2 separate regions of the Homo sapiens genome follow, and region 2 is linked to region 1. Evidence: fine-mapped QTL for protein levels in blood plasma. Region 1 holds a variant in brackets. A gene starts in the other region. All regions are shown on their reverse strands.

Region 1 (8,330 bases):
ATGGGGTCAGAGCCCCCACACAGAGTCCCTACTGGGACACCACTTAGTGGAGCTGCGAGAAGACAGCCACCATCCTAAAGACCCCAGAATGGTAGATCCACAGACAGCTTGCACCGTGTGGCTGGAAAAACCACAGACACTCAATGCCAGCTGATGAAAGCAGCTGGGAGGGAGGCTGTACCCTGTAAAGCCACAGGGGCAGAGCTGCCCAAGACCATGGGAACCCACCTCTTGCATCAGCATGACCTGGATGTGAGATATGGAGTCAAAGATCATGGAGCTTTAAGATTTGACTGCCCTGTTGGATTTTGGACTTGCATGGTGCCTGTAGCCCCTTTGTTTTGGCCAATCTCTCCCATTTGGAATGAGTGTATTTACCCAATGCCTGTAACCCCATTGTATCTAGGAAGTAACTAACTTGCTTTTGATTTTACAGGCTCATAGGCAGAAGGGACTTGCCTTGTCTCAGATGAGACTTTGGACTTTGAACTTTTGAGTTAATGCTGAAATAAGTTAAGACTTTGGGGGACTGTTGGGAAGGCGTGATTGGTTTTGAAATGTGAGGACATGAGATGTGGGGAAAGCCAGGAGCAGAATGATATGGTTTGGTTCTGTTTCAACCCACATCTCATCTTGAATTCCCATGTGTTGTGGGAGGGACCCAGTGGGAAGTGATTGAATCATGGAGGCAGGTCTTTCCTGTGCTATCCTCATGATAGTGAATAAGTCTCATGAGATATGATGATTTTAAAAAGGGGAGTCTCCCTGCACAAGCTCTCTTCTCTTGTCTGCTGTCATGTAAGGCATGCCTTTCATCTTCCACCATGATTGTGAGGTCCTTCTAGCCACGTGGAACTGTAAGTCAATAAACCTCTTCCTTCTGTAAATTGCCCAGTCACAGATCTGTCCTTATCAGCAGTGTGAAAACAGACTAATACATTGGCTGAAGGCTTCTCCCACGCAATCCGACTAGATCTCCCTTCATTAGATGGTTCCAGTACATTTACCACTCCTGTGTTCACTTGAATATTTTAGGGCTCAAAAAAGGATACCCCACAGTATTGTGCCTTGGCATGCTGCGCCCCTTGAACTGAAGGAAACCAAAAGGACCTCAGAAGCAAGAACTGTCTGACCTGCTCCCACTCTTTGTCCTCCTACTCCCCTTTCTCTCCCAAGGCAAGCCATAGAAACTAGAATTCCTCTTCCAACAGGCAGGTCAGAGAAAGAGGAATCTCTCTGTCTCAAAGCAGCCATGAAACCTAAAATATGACTCTCACCTTTCATCCAGGCCTTTCTGTGTAGGAGCTGGCCATAAAATAAATTCTCTAATCTACTCTGTCTGCTAGTAGGTCCTAAGATCTGCATGCCAATTGGGTCCTGCACCATAACTGGGAGCAAGAAATGCCACAGAGAGGCCAATGGAGAACTCCAACTGAAGGCCTTGTGGGGTTTCCCCGATAGTCTATTACTATCATATCTTTTCTTTTTTGTTGGATCACGCTGCTGTCCAGTCTTCATGGAATCTAAGCTTAGCAATGGGCAGTTGTCCCTTGGGTCTTTGGGCCTTCATTCTGAAGGCTCTCATGTTATAGAAACTTGGATTAAATAAATATGCTCTGCTTTCTCTTGCCCACCTGTCGTTTGTTGTAGGTAAGTCAGCTGTGACCCTGAGGATGGGTGAGGAAGGGCATTGCACTTTTTGCCCCTACAGTGGATATGGTGTTTTGCATTCACCAAGCCTAAGCAACCTTTTTCATAATGTTAGACTATTCGGAGAGAGGAATTTTAAAGGTAGGTTAGAGACATGTGTTTTCCTGTAGTAAACGTGTATCTTCAAGTCTTACAAGCATAAAAGATTGAAGTTCTGTTGCTGTTAGGATCTCTTGCCAATCTAACTTGCCAACTGATTCTCCCTGGAGTCCCTGGAGAAGAAGGGGCAATAGGAGCCAGTGGGGCTATTGTAGGGGTGGGGCAGGAACATGAACTTGGCAGTAAGTCCAACCTGGATTCTAATGTAGTTCTGCCTACTTACCTAGGTGATCCCAAGGAAGACAGGGTCACATAAATGTTCTGAGGCTTAGGTTTCTCACCTGTAATGGTGGAAAATCATGATATCTTAACAGGGTGTTTCTGAGGAGTGAATGAGGTAATTATTCACTCCTGTGAATAATTCACTCCTGTGCAGGACCTGGTGATTAGTTCTTTTAAGCTATCTCTAATACTAGGGAAAGGTGTCTAAGAATCCCTGCCTGACTGAAATAGGTTCAAGTGCATAGTCATGGGAGAAGGCAGATTTTAATGGGGAGTTGTGTGGAAAATATGAAAAATGGAAGAGATTTTGTGAAGTTCTTAGGTTGAGAGGAAGGAGGAGAAGCAGAAATGTGGAAGCTGAACACTGGGAGGATGAAGAAATGCATAAGGGAGCACTGTCCAGGGGGAAGTAGACCAGAATGGTAGCGGCTGACCAGCAAGCGTTTCCAGTGAAGACTCAGAAACAGGCCTGGGCACCATCACCGGCAGTGTCATAAAGAAGACAGCATGTGGCTTTGGCGGAGGCCAATCAAGGTTCTAATTCCAGTCCCACATTTACTGACTGCGAGATCCTAAGCAAGTAATTCAGCCTCTTTGGTTCTCTTCTTTCCCTAAGAAATGGTTGATTGTACAGCCTGTTTTCCCTACCTAGGTCCCTTTCCTCCTTGGAGTACAGGCAGACTTCATTTCCCCATCTCCCTTGCATTAGGTGTGGCCATATGACTGAGTTCTAGGCAGTGAAATGTGAGCATGAATCATGCATGCACCTTCCAGGCCTGGGCCACAGAAACCACCTTCATGATCCTCCACTCTCTCCCCATGTGGGCTGGATGCAGAGGATCCAAGAGACAATTCTGAGGTCAAGGGGAGAGCAGAGCCCCCAGACAAAAGGAGCCTGGTACCCTGAATCACCATTTGGATGGCCATCTGCTGATAACCCATATTGACCTGTAACATGAAAGAGAAATCAAATTCTCCATCATTAGGCCACTTGAGTTTGTTCCAGCAACTGGCCTATTCTGATACAATGACATTTTCTGCATGAGAGAGCTGTTGGTAAAGATTAAATTACAAAATATATTAAACAACTTAATTTTAAGTTTTATTATTTATTTATTTATTTATTTGGAGACAGAGTCTTTCTCTGTTGCCCAAGTTGAAGTGCGGTCATGGAATCTTGGCTCACTGCAACCTCCGCCTCCCGGGTTCAAGTATTTCTCCCACCTCAGCCTCCATGCCCAGGTAATTTTTGTATTTTTTGGTAGAGATGGGGTTTCACCGTGTTGGCCAGTGATCCACTTGTTTCAGCCTCCCAAAGTGCTGGGATTATAGGCGTGAGCCACTGTGATCAGCCGTATCTTCAGACTCATAGTAAATGTTTAATGTACCTGCTTATTATACAAACATTTCTTAAACCCTTATTGTGTGGCAAGTGCTTTAATGAACAAAGCAGACAAAGTGTTTTCTGTTATAGCATAAATTGGGGATGAAGAAAAAGGGAAAATCAATAAATATTTCTAGCCTGAAGGATTTTAAGAATGGTATTGCCACTGACAGAAAGGCTGATGTTAGGAAGTGGGAGAGCTTTTCTGGAGAAGAATGAAGAGTTTGGGCTTTAGACATTTGAAGAGGCATTAATTATGTTGCCTCTGTGAATGTCACCTTTGAAAGTTTATGAAATATTTGTAAACAGATACTGATACACTTTTTAGCTGGGATGACATAAGAAAAGCAGCCGGGAGCGGTGGCTCACGCCTGTAATCCCAGCACTTTGGCAGGCTGAGGCAGGTGGATCATAAAGTCAGGAGTTCGAGACCAGCCTGGACAATATGGTGAAACCCTGTCTCTACTAAAAGTACAAAAATTAGCCGGGTGTGTTGGCGCAAGCCTATAGTCCCAGCTGCTCGGGAGGCTGAGGCAGGGGAATCACTTGAACCCAGGAGGTGGAGGTTACAGTGAGCTGAGATCACGCCACTGCACCCCAGCCTGGGCGACAGAGCAAGACTCTGTGAAAACAAACAAACAAACAAACAAAAAGAAGTCTAGAAAAGCATGGTGTATTGTCTAAAACCTCTAGTAGAACGTACCATCCCGAGGTGGGAATGGTTTCTTATCCCATTATTCCCTCGCAGTGTCGGGTGTGCATAGGAAGAATGCCCTTAACTGAAGTGAATTGAGAGCTTCAACTCCTCTGTATTCCAAGGAATATTTTCATTAACTCAAGCAAAGTTTATGAAAGTACTTTGTAAATTATTGAATCCTACTCCAGTGCTTCTGTGGGAGGATACATTCTGAGTTATTAACCTCTGTATCTTTTGCCCTCCATGGGTCTCACCTTTCTCCTCTCCCTGTTCAAGCAGCTGACCTGGTGTCCATGCCTCCAGGAGGAATGTGATTCTGCAGGGCCACATTCAGCTGCACCTGCCAGTGTGGTCACGCTGGTTGTTTATGGATGGTGACTGTTCTGATAGGTTGTTGTTTCTGGTCTGATTGGTCAGTGCTTGGGTCATGTTGATTATGAAATACTTTGAGTATCACTATTGCAGTTGGAAGATAGACAGAATCTGAATTCTTTTAGTTTGTTTCAAATGATTGAGTCCTGATTTGAGGAGGAAAAAGAAAGAGGAGTATAGTGTGGAAAAAGTCTTCTGGCCCTAAAAATAAATAAAGTGAACTTACCTGAGACTAGCAAGAGAGTCGTTAGCTGAGGGAGAAGGTATAGGGAGAAGAGTGAGGTAAGGGGTCTCTGAGGCAGAGGAGATCTCTGCCCTGCTTTCTGGGCATGCAGCTGGGAAGACAGCAAGATCCCAGGGAGAGAGCAGCCATATGCCATACCTTGGCAGTCATGTCCATGGCTAGTGTACAGACATTCCTGCACCCCCAGTTTTCTACAGAAGTAGCAGATAAATCAGACTGAAAGAGTGATGTGAACAGGGTTGTGACTATCCCTGAGCAGGATGGCTATCACTCATGATGATGATCATTGGTCCAACAGTCACCCTGGCTGAGGGATAGTCACTATCCTGCTTCCTACCACCTGGACAGCTTGGCATGGTGTGAGATCCTAGAACTGTGGCCCAACTTTGTGTGGAAAGTAGCAGGGCAGGGAAAGGGGACTCCAAGAAGGACTGGGGTTAAATTTCCACTAAGCCAGTAGGATGGCATCCTCAAATAGAAATTAATTTGTTCTGAGCATAAAGTGACATTTCTTATGCACCTGAATTTATGGTCATGATTCATGTTAGCAAGCTTCTTTGCAATTTATAGCCAGAGGTTTGTTTGCTTCAATACTGAATTTAGAACTTATTTTTCCAAAAGAAAATTTAGATGCCTAGTAATAATCACGAGGAGAGAATTTAGGTCACTTTAATAATAATAAATAGGGGGAGGGTGGGAAGCAGGAGAGCATTCGGAAAAAGAACTAGAGCATGCTGGGCTTAATACCTAGGTGATGGGTTGATAGGTGCAGCAAAGCACCATGGCATGCTTTTACCTATATAACAAACCTGCACACCCTGCACATGTGCCCTGGAACTTAGAAAATAAAATGAAATAAATGATAACAATAGTTTCAATACCATACTTTATTAGTATGCCCAGGTATAGCCCAAGCAGTAACAGAGACTCTAGAATTAGAGTTAAGTCCAGGAAAGAAGGAGATTCTGAGTGGCATAGATTTGTCTCAAGTGATGTAGTGGTGAGTGACAGAATTAACTACTAATAGGCAGCACTGAGTTCTTTCCTCTCCTTTCCATTTGATCTCTCTTCTCAGGCCATCTCTTTTCCCATTCACATTTTGCTGCATCTTCAGTATGAAAGTAGGTTGAAAAGAACTGTAATTTTCACAATTACTGGTCATTTTATTTATGTTTCTAATTCAATGTATTATTCATTTTCCTCTTCAAAGGAATCACATTTTATTTTGGAAATGTATGTGTAAAAAACATGGAAACTTGTGGAAACCCACTCTTGAACTTCCCTGGACATGATTCAGAGACTGATTGAGGAAAGGGCTGATTGTCTGGCTTTAGAGGATGTTTGTGGTGCGGCAATGGGAAGCTGGGAAAATTGGCCTCAGGAAGTGGCAGCACCTCACCTTTTCTTAGAGGAGGGAGTCGGTACACAGATCCAATTTGTCTGCAATGGAAGGGACGGGGTCCTTTACCTGGGCCTCGCCTTCTTAAGTGCCCAGGTGGTGGGCCGTGGCCATGGCAACAGTGACCTTGGTTATGGGGTGGTGGGTCACAAGGTCCATAGTCTTGGAAATCATGGCAGTGGGGATGGTGTCCATGGGGATGGTGTCCATGGGGGTGGTGTCCATGAGGATGGTGTCCATGGGGGTGGTGTCCATGGGGATGCTGTCTATGGGTATCATGTTCATGAGGATGGTGTGCATGGGGATGGTGTCCGTGGGGATGCTGTTCATGGGAATGATGCTTATGGGGATGGAGGTCACTGGAATTATTATTATGAGAA[T/C]GTCTTTGGGCCCCATTTGTGCCAAAAGTGGCATGTTGACAACTTGAGCAGGACATGGGCAATAGTGGAGGAGGGCCTTGTGGAAGTGGGGGTCCATGTGAGTGATCTCTTTCATCTGGAGGAGGTGGGGGTCCATGTTCGTGTGGCTTGTGGGGATGATGATGATCTCTAGATCCATGGGGCTTGAATGGAGGCTTGGTGGTAGAAGAACGCTCATGCCCACCCCAGTGGAAGGGATGTCCCAAATGAGGCGGTACACCATTGATGTTCTCATGTTCCTGGAAAAGGTCACAGAAAAGTGCCTATCATCATGTAACATAAAAGAAGATGTTAGATACTTGACTTGATTTACACCAATGGCTCCCAGATCATAGATTCCACAAATCAATTTAAAAAGTATTACGAAAAAAGATTCTCAAATTGTTATCTAGCCCAGTTGATATTTAAAATATTAACAATAACTATCATTTACCACCATCATTGTTTCACAAAAGAAACTATTTTTTTTTTCTGAGACTGAGTCTCGCTCTGTCACCCAGTCTGGAGTGCAGTGGTGCGATCTCTGCTCATTGCAACATCCACCTCTCAGGTTCAAGCAATTCTCCTGCCTCAGCCTCCCAAGTAGCTGGGACTACACGCCCAAGCCACCATGCCCACCTAATTTTTTTTTTTCTTTTTTTGAGACATAGTCTTACTCTGTTGCCCAGACTCCTAATTTTTGTATTTTTAGTAGAGACAGGTTTCACCATGTTGAACTCCTTGTTTCAAGTAATCCACCCATCTCAGCTTCCCAAAGTGCTGGGATTACAGGCATGAGCCACCATGCCCAGCCTGGAATGAAATTTTGATTTAAAAAAAAAAGAAAGAGCCAGAAACACAATATCAGAGTAAAGGATTGTCCTTTAGATGGATAAATGTTAGATATAAAAAACTTCATTATCCTTATTTTTTTTTCATTTTTACTACACAGAGTGGTGAAACAATATTATGACCTGGCACCCATCTGTAGACCAACACTGGAAAACTAGTGCCTTATAACTGATATTCTTAACTGAGGCTTGATGGTATCAACATCCCTTACTCCTAAAGGCTGAACACTTGACCTCTTCTCTCTCTTCCTTGTTCAGAGTTTAATTTTTTAAAAAATAGCTACAGAGGCCGGGCACGGTGGCTCATGTCTGTAATCCCAGAACTTTGGGAGGCTGAGGCAGGTGGATCACCTAAGGTCAGGAGTTTGAGACCAACCTGACCAACATGGAGAAACCCCTTCTCTACTAAAAATGCAAAATTAGCCAGGTATGGTGGCGCATGCCTGTAATCCTAGCTACTCAGGAGGCTGAGGCAGGAGAATCGCTTGAACCCAGGAGGCAGAGGTTGTGGTGAGCCGAGATGGCACCATTGTATTCCAGCCTGGGCAATAAGAGCAAAACTCCTTCTCAAAAAAAAAAAAAAAAAAAAAGACAGAGCCATGTTCATGGTGACAATCCTGCCCTTTGTTCCTTTTTCTTTTTTTTAACTTGGGATTGGATGTTTGGATTATTTTAAGTTTTGTTTCTGATATGAAAAATTTCGTGAAGCAAATCTTTGTACTCATGTAAAAAATAGACCAAAGATTTCTGAGACAGATGCAAAATATGGTTTTGCATCTTATTTTATATACATTTACATAATAAATTTGAGGCTGATATATTCCTCTTAGATTCTATGCCCAATAATATAAGCTTAGGAATGACTAAGTCTCAGCACTAGAGTCCCGACTACAAAGAGCATTTTCAAATTCCTTCAAGTTTGGTTGAATTGGACATGATTTTAATTTTCTGCCA
Region 2 (8,330 bases), not on the chromosome of region 1:
GGGTAGGCAAACACTTCACAGCCAAAGATCACATCCTGCCCTGTCACATTCCAAGTGTCATATGGATGTGACACGATCTGGGGCCCTGGGGGTGAAGGCGGGAGGTCTGAGAATAGCATGGCCCAGCAAAGGCATCCAGTCTGGCAAAGACATGATACACAAATTTTTGTGGACATGCTTGTGGCAGAACACAATATATGCTGAGGTAAATACACATCCATAAACACACCGTGACACACACAGGTACACACAGATATGGATGCTGGTACACACAAGGGTACCACGCAGACGTGGAGATAGGTATACATGCACATGTGCACATAGAACCTCATGCAGACCCAATGCACAAACAAGCACACACATCTACATTGTAGCTTGGCAGCCACTCTGTCCCTAACTGCTCCCCTGTCCTCATTTCACCCTCCCCAGCCTTTCCTGCGTGCCTGTAATCAAAACCTTCCAGATCCCCCTTCCCCTTTTCTAAACAGGCCCAGTTCCCAAAGGAGGAAAAGCAGCCGTTCCCTCCTCAGTACCCCCTGGGGGAGTCCTGCGGCAAGGCAGAGAACCTGAAGCTGGACTTGTGCGACAGGCAGGAAGCCTGCAGGAGTGGAGGAAATTGCTGGGACCCCCACGGGGTGTTTGTTTTCTGGCTGCCCCAGCCGAGCCAGACGCAGAGCCCGGGCTCAGGAAGTGAAAGTTACTAAAGCTACCAAGGAAAGCTAGAGGCCTGAATGGACCCCAGTCCCCAGGGATAGAGAAAGAACTTCCCGCTCCCCTTCACTAATCCCTAAAAGCAGGAGAAAGCAGAGAGGTGGGGAGACTGGGTGAACAAACTGCTCTAAGAATGAAACGTGATTGCATCTCACAGGAACCCGTCTTGCTGCCTGGACTCCACTGGTCTGGGAAAAGTCGGGGGGGTCTCTGAGCAAACCATAGGTTATGTGCCTGCGCCCTCAGAGGACCTGTCTCTCCCTGCCAGCCAGCTCTGGAGCTTTCACGTGGTTCAGCGAATGCAGCTTGCTGACGAAGCCCGGGACTCCCACTCCACTCCACCCCCCACCCCCACCTTAAGGTGGCAGCTTTTATGAACCAGTAGCGAGAGCAGGGTTTTATACTGGACTCGAGGCCTCTATAGCCTTATCTTTTTTGCTCTGCTGGCCAGAGACCAATGCTGTCAGGGGTCGGGGAGCAGTGCCTCTAGGAAACCTAAGTGCTGGGGTGGGGGCCCCGGGCCATGCGTACCCGATTCGCAGGGCCCCGGGTGTGCCACAGTGAGGTTGGCATCGGGCCGAGCGCGGGCCGCCTCCTGCAGGCGGCAGATCTGGGAGTAGGTGTGACCGTCGGACCCGCAGAGCGGACTCTGCGAACGACAGGCACACAGAGGTTCCGGCACCTCTCCGCGGCTCAGGTCGCCGCCTGTGTCCAGCCGGCACTCAAGCTGCTCGCCGCAGTGCCCGTAGAAGTGAGCACTGGGGTCCAGGTCGCAGAGCTGGCCCTCGAGGTTGGCGCATTCCCAGCAGCAGCCGCACGCGTCGCGCACCCTGCCCGCCAGGCAGCCCCGCGGCGCGGCGCACTCTTCTGGCCGGCAGGGAGCGCAGCCCTCGCCCTCCGCTAGCAGCCGCATCCAGCCGCGCCGCAGGTAATCTGGGCCTGGGGATGGCCTTGCGCCGGTCGGGGGCGGCGTCAGCACCACCAGCAGTAGCAGGAGCACAGGCAGCGCCAAGGCAGCTGCGGGCCGCGGCGGCGGCAGCATGGTTAGCGGGAAGCCCTGCGAGCACTCGGGGCATCAGCGCGTTCGGGCACCCTGCCAGGAAGGGAAGCCAGGTCAGGAGGTCAGAAACAGGGCCTGTGCCGAAAGACCAACCTCACTGCTTCTTGTACCAAAGCATGACACTAGCATCGCCCCCTCCCCTGCTACCAAGTAGCCTCCCCCAACACACAGGCCTAGTGACCCTCTAGGGATTATCCAGTTATGGCAGTTAGCAATCAGTTGGGCTGTTCTTGGGAGGGCTGGGAGTGAAGAGAGGTGAGGAAAGGGTGATAAGGCTCAGGCGCACGCACACCCACCACCAGCACCACTTCCGTGCACCACCCGACTCCGATCCCTGGCCCCTGAGCATCCTTGCCCAAAGAGAATGGGTGGCTCCAGAAGTAAGAAGCTGCTAATGGGGGGTGAGAACTGGGGGGGCTGATGCCGCCTCGCTTATGGCCTGGGGCACAGAGTGCTCACCTAGTGTCCGGAACTAGACCCTTCGCAGCAGCCGTGATTCGAGTCCGAAAGAAAAGGTTATGGAAAGAAAGCAGAGGCGCAGTCAGCCGGGCCCGCCGGCCACCTCTGCTCCGTCCTGAGGACTTCTGAGAGAGCCCACGAACTTGGATTCAGAAAGCAGCTCCTCCGGCCCCCTCTCTCCGCCCCTCGACTTCGCGCACCCGCCTTCCCACTAGTTCTAAGGCTGCCAATTTTATGTAGCCGCATGGGACCCTCCCGGGTCATTTCCCCCAGCCTGGCCCAAAGTCACAATGCGAGCAGAGGAGCCGTAACCAGACACCGAGGCTGGGAGAGAGGAAGGGGGTGAGGACCGGAGGCGGGGAGTGGGGGTAGGAGTTTGGCTGGGAAGCTCAAAGTGTTGGCTGAACGGCTAGGCCCTGTCCCATCTGATTTTACAGTCCCTGGCGTCGGCGAGGGCAGCTGCATAAGGGGGAGGCGGCAGGAGCTCTGGTGCCAAGTCATTTTACGTCGATGTCGGGGCGCTCCTGGAGGGCAGGACCAACCACCTTCGTCTCCCCGCAGCCCAGGGCTGGTTCCCGGGAGCGACCGCAGGCTTGCCCACCCAGCTGCCCCACCAAGGCGCGGACAGACTGGGCGCCTACATCCGCCTTCCCTCATCTGGCCTCCTTCTTCCTCCCCACATCCGGCAGGTGCTGCGACCCGCGGGTGAGCCGGGTGATTCGAGGTCGGAGCCGACCAGCGGCCGCAGGGAGAGGCGGGCTGGCGCCTCCCCGGCGGGCGTCCCTCGGGTCGGGATTACAGGTTACGGTTGCGAGGCTGGCAGGGCCGGAGACACTCGGCCTCGCGGCCGCCACCACCGCCACCGTGGCACTTTGGGCCGGGGGCGGGGAGGAGAGCATTCCTAGGGGCCCGCCAGCCAAACCCGGGTCGGGCAGGCCCCGCCCCGGCCGGCCCCAAGCGGCTCACAGAAGCCTTGGCGCAGTCCAGCTCGCGGGGGGATGGGCGAGGGTGGGGGGCAGAAATAGCAATCTGCAGCCGGCAAGGGGGCGGCACTTAGTCAGGCTCCGCCCACAAGACCCGGCTGCCGTCCCCGCCCGCCTGCGCGGGATCGACTCCGCATGCGCACTGGAGCCTCGGAATACAGCCAGGACTCTCCCGTCGGAATGCGCCCCTAAGTTGGGCCAAGCCCATTCATTCAGGGGCTCCCGAGCCACGTAGGCGCCATCCCTGGCCAGAGGGGTTCTGAGGAGGTGGGCAAGGGCAGACACTCTCTCCCGGTCTCAAATTCGAAATAGGGACTAGAAGGGAACTTCACGCGAGGCCTCGCAACTGTCGCGAGAATCAGAACAGGAAATCTAGGAACCGAGAACACTAAGAGCCCGCGGATTTTAAACAGGAAAAAGAAAGGGCGGAGCAAACTCTGGCGGATAGTTGTGAGTAATCCCTGGTCCTTGGAATAAGTGTCGACCTGAGACAGAAGGGGAACTGTCAGAGAGCTGCCGGAGACCCTGAAAAAGGCCAGAGACGGGGACTTGTGGGGCTGACGAATGGAATCACCCAAGGAGAGGTCTCTGACTCTAACAAAACACCTTGGGGACGGAGCTCCTTGGCTGGGATACAGAGCAGACAAGTCCGGGATCTTTTAGTGAATTGCTGCCGGCTTCTAAGGCCTGGAGCAGATATTCAACAACAAACTCCACGGACCTAGAAACTCTCCACTTATCCTACTATTGTAGACGGTGGCTTACTTTTAGTCTTCCCTATGCTCTAAGCTTCTGGTAGTAGGAATCGTGCCTAACTCACTACTGTATCTTGTGAACCTAGCCCCGCGCCTGGTGGCACGTCAAATTCTCGGTAAATATTTGTGGATTAAATGTGAAAGACTGCCTGAGTGTTTAACCTGGATTTTCTGAGTCGCTGATGGAGAACAGTAGGTAGACGGGGAACCAGCGCCCTCTGGTGGGCTTGTGGTTCGTGACGAGAACATGCTGGAACCGTGCATCCAGGTAGGCACAAAGATAATAAAAGGGGATCCGCTGTTATTAAGTAGAGATTTTGTTACATTAAAACCCTACATACCGTAAAAATGCTTTTAGAAGGGAGTTTTTTGAATAGGACACAACTTGAAAGTTTAGATACATTCCCCGATCCTCAACATCCCATACTTTATCCATCAAGGCTCCAAAATATTCAGTAACACCTATGCGCATCATACATAGTAAAGAGATAGCAAATGATTTTGCGTATATATACTTTGAAAATGTTTACTCGGTTTTGTGCAAAACAGGCCAAAGGGAAGGGATTTTCTAGCCTAGATGATGTGAATACTGCTAGGGAGAGGAGCCAGGTGGCAGCATCCTTTGCATTTAATGAGGGAGACTAGATCCAGATGGGCAGGGTGAAGTTGAAATTTGTTGAATAATAGATGGTCCCGCCTCTTTTTTCCCCTTTTCCTGCAGATGCTTGTATTGAAGAAGGAATGAGGTATAGAATGTAGTTTTCTTTCCACTGTGAAGCCCTGTGTTCACAAGATTATCATACGTTCACTTTCAGTCACTGACACATGAAATAACTGAAGTATAATGACAGAATGATGAGCTGGAGTGTGGTGGTGCACGCCTGTAGCACCAGCTACTTGGGAGACTGAGGCAGTAGGATCCCTTGAGCTCAAGGGTTCGAGAGACCATGTCTCTTTAAAAATAGAAGTTTAGGGCCAGGCGTGGTGGCTCATACCTCTTAATCCCAGCACTTTGGGAGGCGGAGGCGGGTGGATCACCTGAGGTCAGGAGCTTGAGACCAGCCTGGTCAATATGGTGAAACCCTGTCTCTACTAAAAATACAAAAATTAGCCCAGCGTGGTGGTGCACGCCTGTAATCCCAGCTACTCAGGAGGCTGAGGCAGGAGAATCGCTTGAATCTGGGAGGCAGAGGTTGCAGTGAGCCCAGATCACGCCACTGCACTCCAGCCTGGGTGACAGAGCAAGACCCCCTCTCAAAAAATAAAAATAAAAAATAGAATTTTAAAAATAAAAGAGTGAAAAGAGCCCTATACAGATGAACAACAAAAGATGAAACAAGGCATACAGTCATTGTTTAATTTGGTAAAGAAAAGAAATTACTTCAAATGATCCACATATTTCAACCTGTCACTTCACAAACCCTGTTTTGACACAGCTGGTGAAAATAGTAGAGTTGCAACTTTGAGGAAGAAGCAGGAATGAAACAAATGGTCCATACTGACCTATTAAAGACGGATATGGAGAAATTGTGCTTCCTGTGAATATTAGAATTGGTTGATTAAAAAAAAAACCTCAACATAGATAATTAAAATGGAATACTTTGTAGCTACCAACTATGACAAATAGGTAAACTCAAAATAATGTATGTAGGAAACAAAGTGAAAAGTATGTATGGAAAAATAAGGTTAAGAGAAAAGAAGAAGTATATGGATACTGATCACAACTGTATGTGTATTTATCATCTATATCATCAATAAACATCCTAAGAGAATTTGGAATGAGGCTAATGGTTGAGTGTAATACTCACTACTGCTTTATAAGTTATTTTTCCTTTTTTTTTTTTTTTTTTTTGAGACAGAGTCTAGCTTTATCGCCCAGGCTGGAGTACAGTGGCGCAATCTCAGCTCACTGCAACCTCGGCCTCCCGGGTTCAAGCGATCCTCCTACCTCAGCCTCCTGAGTAGCCACCTGGCTAATTTTTTTTTTTTTTTTTTTTTTTTTTTAAGTAGAGACAGGGTTTTGTCATGTTGGCCAGGCTGGTCTTGAACTCCTGACCTCAAGTGATCTGCTCACCTTGGCTTCCTAGTAGAGGCTATTTTTATAGGTAAATTAGAATGTCAAGATAAATGTAGCAAAGCTGGGGTGGCCAGGTAAAAAGATTGGCTGGGCACAGTGGTTCATGCCTGTAATCCCAGCCCTTTGGGAGACCAAGGTGGGCGGATCACCTGAGGTCAGGAGTTCGAGACCAGCCTGGCCAACATGGCAAAACCCCATCTCTATTAAAAATACAAAAATTAGCTGGTTATGGTGGCGCATGCGTATAATCCCAGCTACTTGGGAGGCTGAGACAGTAGAATCGCTTGAACCCAGGAGGCGGAGGTTGCAGTGAACCGAGATCGCGCCACCACGCCAACCTAGGTGACAGAGCAAAACTCCATCTCAAAAAAAACAAGAAAAGAAAAGAAAAAGGAAAACATAATTCAGCTATAAGTAGTGTTACAAAATGAAGACTGGAATAGCCAGGAACTGGCTTTCTGGAATACCTAGGCATTAAGGCAAGTTGAATAAGCTTCAGGACATCTAAATCAGGCCTCAGTCTACCTTCGTATATCTCAAAAGGCAATCCCTCCCCCTAACACCCACCTTCAGTATCCCATTGACCCTTGAAATGGTGACTGTAGCTCCATCCAACCTGATGACTTGGCCAAATGTTATATTGATAAACTTAGAAAAGATGCTTAAATCATTCCACATGTACATTGTTTCTACATTTCTATTTCTTTCTTTCTTTTTTTTTTTGAGACAGAGTTTCACTGTTGTTGCCCAGGCTGGAGTGCAATGGCACAATCTCGGCTCACTGCAACCTCCACTTTCCACGTTCAAGCAATTCTCCTGCCTCAGCCTCCCGTGTAGCTGGGATTATAGGCATGCACCACCATGCTAGGCTAATTTTGTATGTTTAGTAGAGACAGTGTTTCACCACGTTGGTCAGGCTGGTCTTGAACTGACCTTAAGTGATCCACCCACCTCGGCCTCGCAAAGTGCTGGGATTACAGACGTGAGCCACCGCGCCTGGCCCTTTCTACATTTCTTGTTCTCATTTTGTTTTTAACTTAATTTCATTATGAAGTATAATAGACAAGCAGAAAAGTGCACAAAGTAGATATATGGTTAAATTAATTATTACTAAATGAACACTTGTGATTATCCAGGTCAAGAAACAGAACATTGCCAACACCCTCAGAAGCCCCCATCATGCCCCTCCCCGATAATTTTCCCTCCTCTTCTCCCTAGATAACCATTTTTTTGTTTGTTTTTTTGATTTGTTTGTTTGTTTTTGTTGAGACATGGTCTTTCTCTGTTGCCCAGGCTAGAGTGCAGTGGCGTGATCATGGTTTGTTGCAGTCTCAAAGTCCTGGGTTCAAAGGATCCTTCCACGTCAGCCTCCCAAGTAGCTGGGACTACAGGCACACCACCACACCTAGCTAATTTTTTTATTTTTATTTTTGCAGAGACAAAGTCTTACTATGTTATCCAGGCTGGTGTGGAACTCCTGACCTCAAGCAGTCCTCCCACCTCAGCCTCCCAAATTGCTGGGATTATAGATGTGAACCACTGTGCCTGGCCAATAACCACCTTTAACTCTATACTTTAAGTTTACCTGGTTTTGACATTTATAGAAATTGGGACATGCCTAGGATTGGAATTACTGCTTCATGTGATATGCATATTCAACATTAGTAGATTTTCTTTTCCTTCCTTCCTTCTTTCCTTCCTTCCTTCCTCCTTTCCTTCCTTCCTTTCCTTCCTTCCTTCCTTCCTTTTCTTTCTTTCCTTTTCTTTTCTTTCTTTCCTTCTTTTCTTTCTTTTTTTTTCTTTTCTTTCTCACAGGGTCTCACTCTATCTGGGCTAGTCCCAAACTCCTCGGCTTAAGCAATCCTCCCACCTCAGCCTCCCAAAATGCTGGGATTATCAACATTAGTAGATATTACCATACACTTTTTCCAGTGTGATGTATGAATTTATATAGTCTTCAGCAGTTGATGAGTTTTCATTATGCCACATCCTTGCCAAGAGTTGGTATTGTTGTTGTTCTTTTAAATTTTAGCCATTAGGTAAAAATTTTAGAGCCTAAAATTTTTAAATGGCCAGTTCTGCAAGGATTTCCTCTCTTGGATATTTTTTTAAAAACCTTTTATTTTGAATTTTAGACTTGGATAGAAGTTGTGAAAATAGCAAAGAAATTTCCCATGTACCTGTCACCTAGCCTACCCTGGTGATAACATAATATCTTATATAACCATGATATAATTATCAAAACCAGGAAATTGAAATTTATACAGTACTATTAGCTAAACAAT

Direction of the effects. Positions count from the first base shown, and alleles are read on the strand shown. Strength reflects both the effect of a copy and how common the allele is.
For the plasma level of the protein whose gene starts at base 2,357 in region 2, allele C in region 1 goes with a lower level than allele T (moderate association).

The links. A credible set is the group of variants that fine-mapping cannot tell apart. PIP is the chance, under the fine-mapping model, that this variant and not a neighbour inherited with it causes the effect. Protein levels are from antibody-based Olink assays in UK Biobank. Linkage for the fine-mapping came from a reference panel and not from the study's own genotypes, which makes the PIPs less certain.
Region 2: it holds the start of KAZALD1, and the variant in region 1 is the best candidate, but not a certain one, in a credible set for the plasma level of the KAZALD1 protein (UK Biobank, PIP 0.86).

The regions. Positions count from the first base shown.
Region 1 is chr3:186,675,502-186,683,831 of GRCh38, reverse strand. It overlaps HRG (histidine rich glycoprotein), which reads right to left. Exons shown (of 7, transcript NM_000412.5): 7 at 5,598-6,785. The coding sequence ends at 5,949. Among named protein-coding and RNA genes, the nearest start is that of HRG, 14 kb to the right of the region's middle. The variant T/C (reference allele first, on the strand shown) is at 6,508.
Region 2 is chr10:101,056,016-101,064,345 of GRCh38, reverse strand. KAZALD1 (Kazal type serine peptidase inhibitor domain 1) reads right to left here and starts at 2,357. Exons shown (of 5, transcript NM_030929.5): 1 at 2,231-2,357; 2 at 1,243-1,804; 3 at 1-85. The coding sequence starts at 1,753. It overlaps LOC107984262 (a long non-coding RNA gene), which reads left to right and starts at 3,595. Exons shown (of 2, transcript XR_001747569.3): 1 at 3,595-4,236; 2 at 4,690-5,751. RefSeq lists silencers at 1,643-1,692, 2,873-3,292 and enhancers at 1,605-2,493, 3,420-3,714.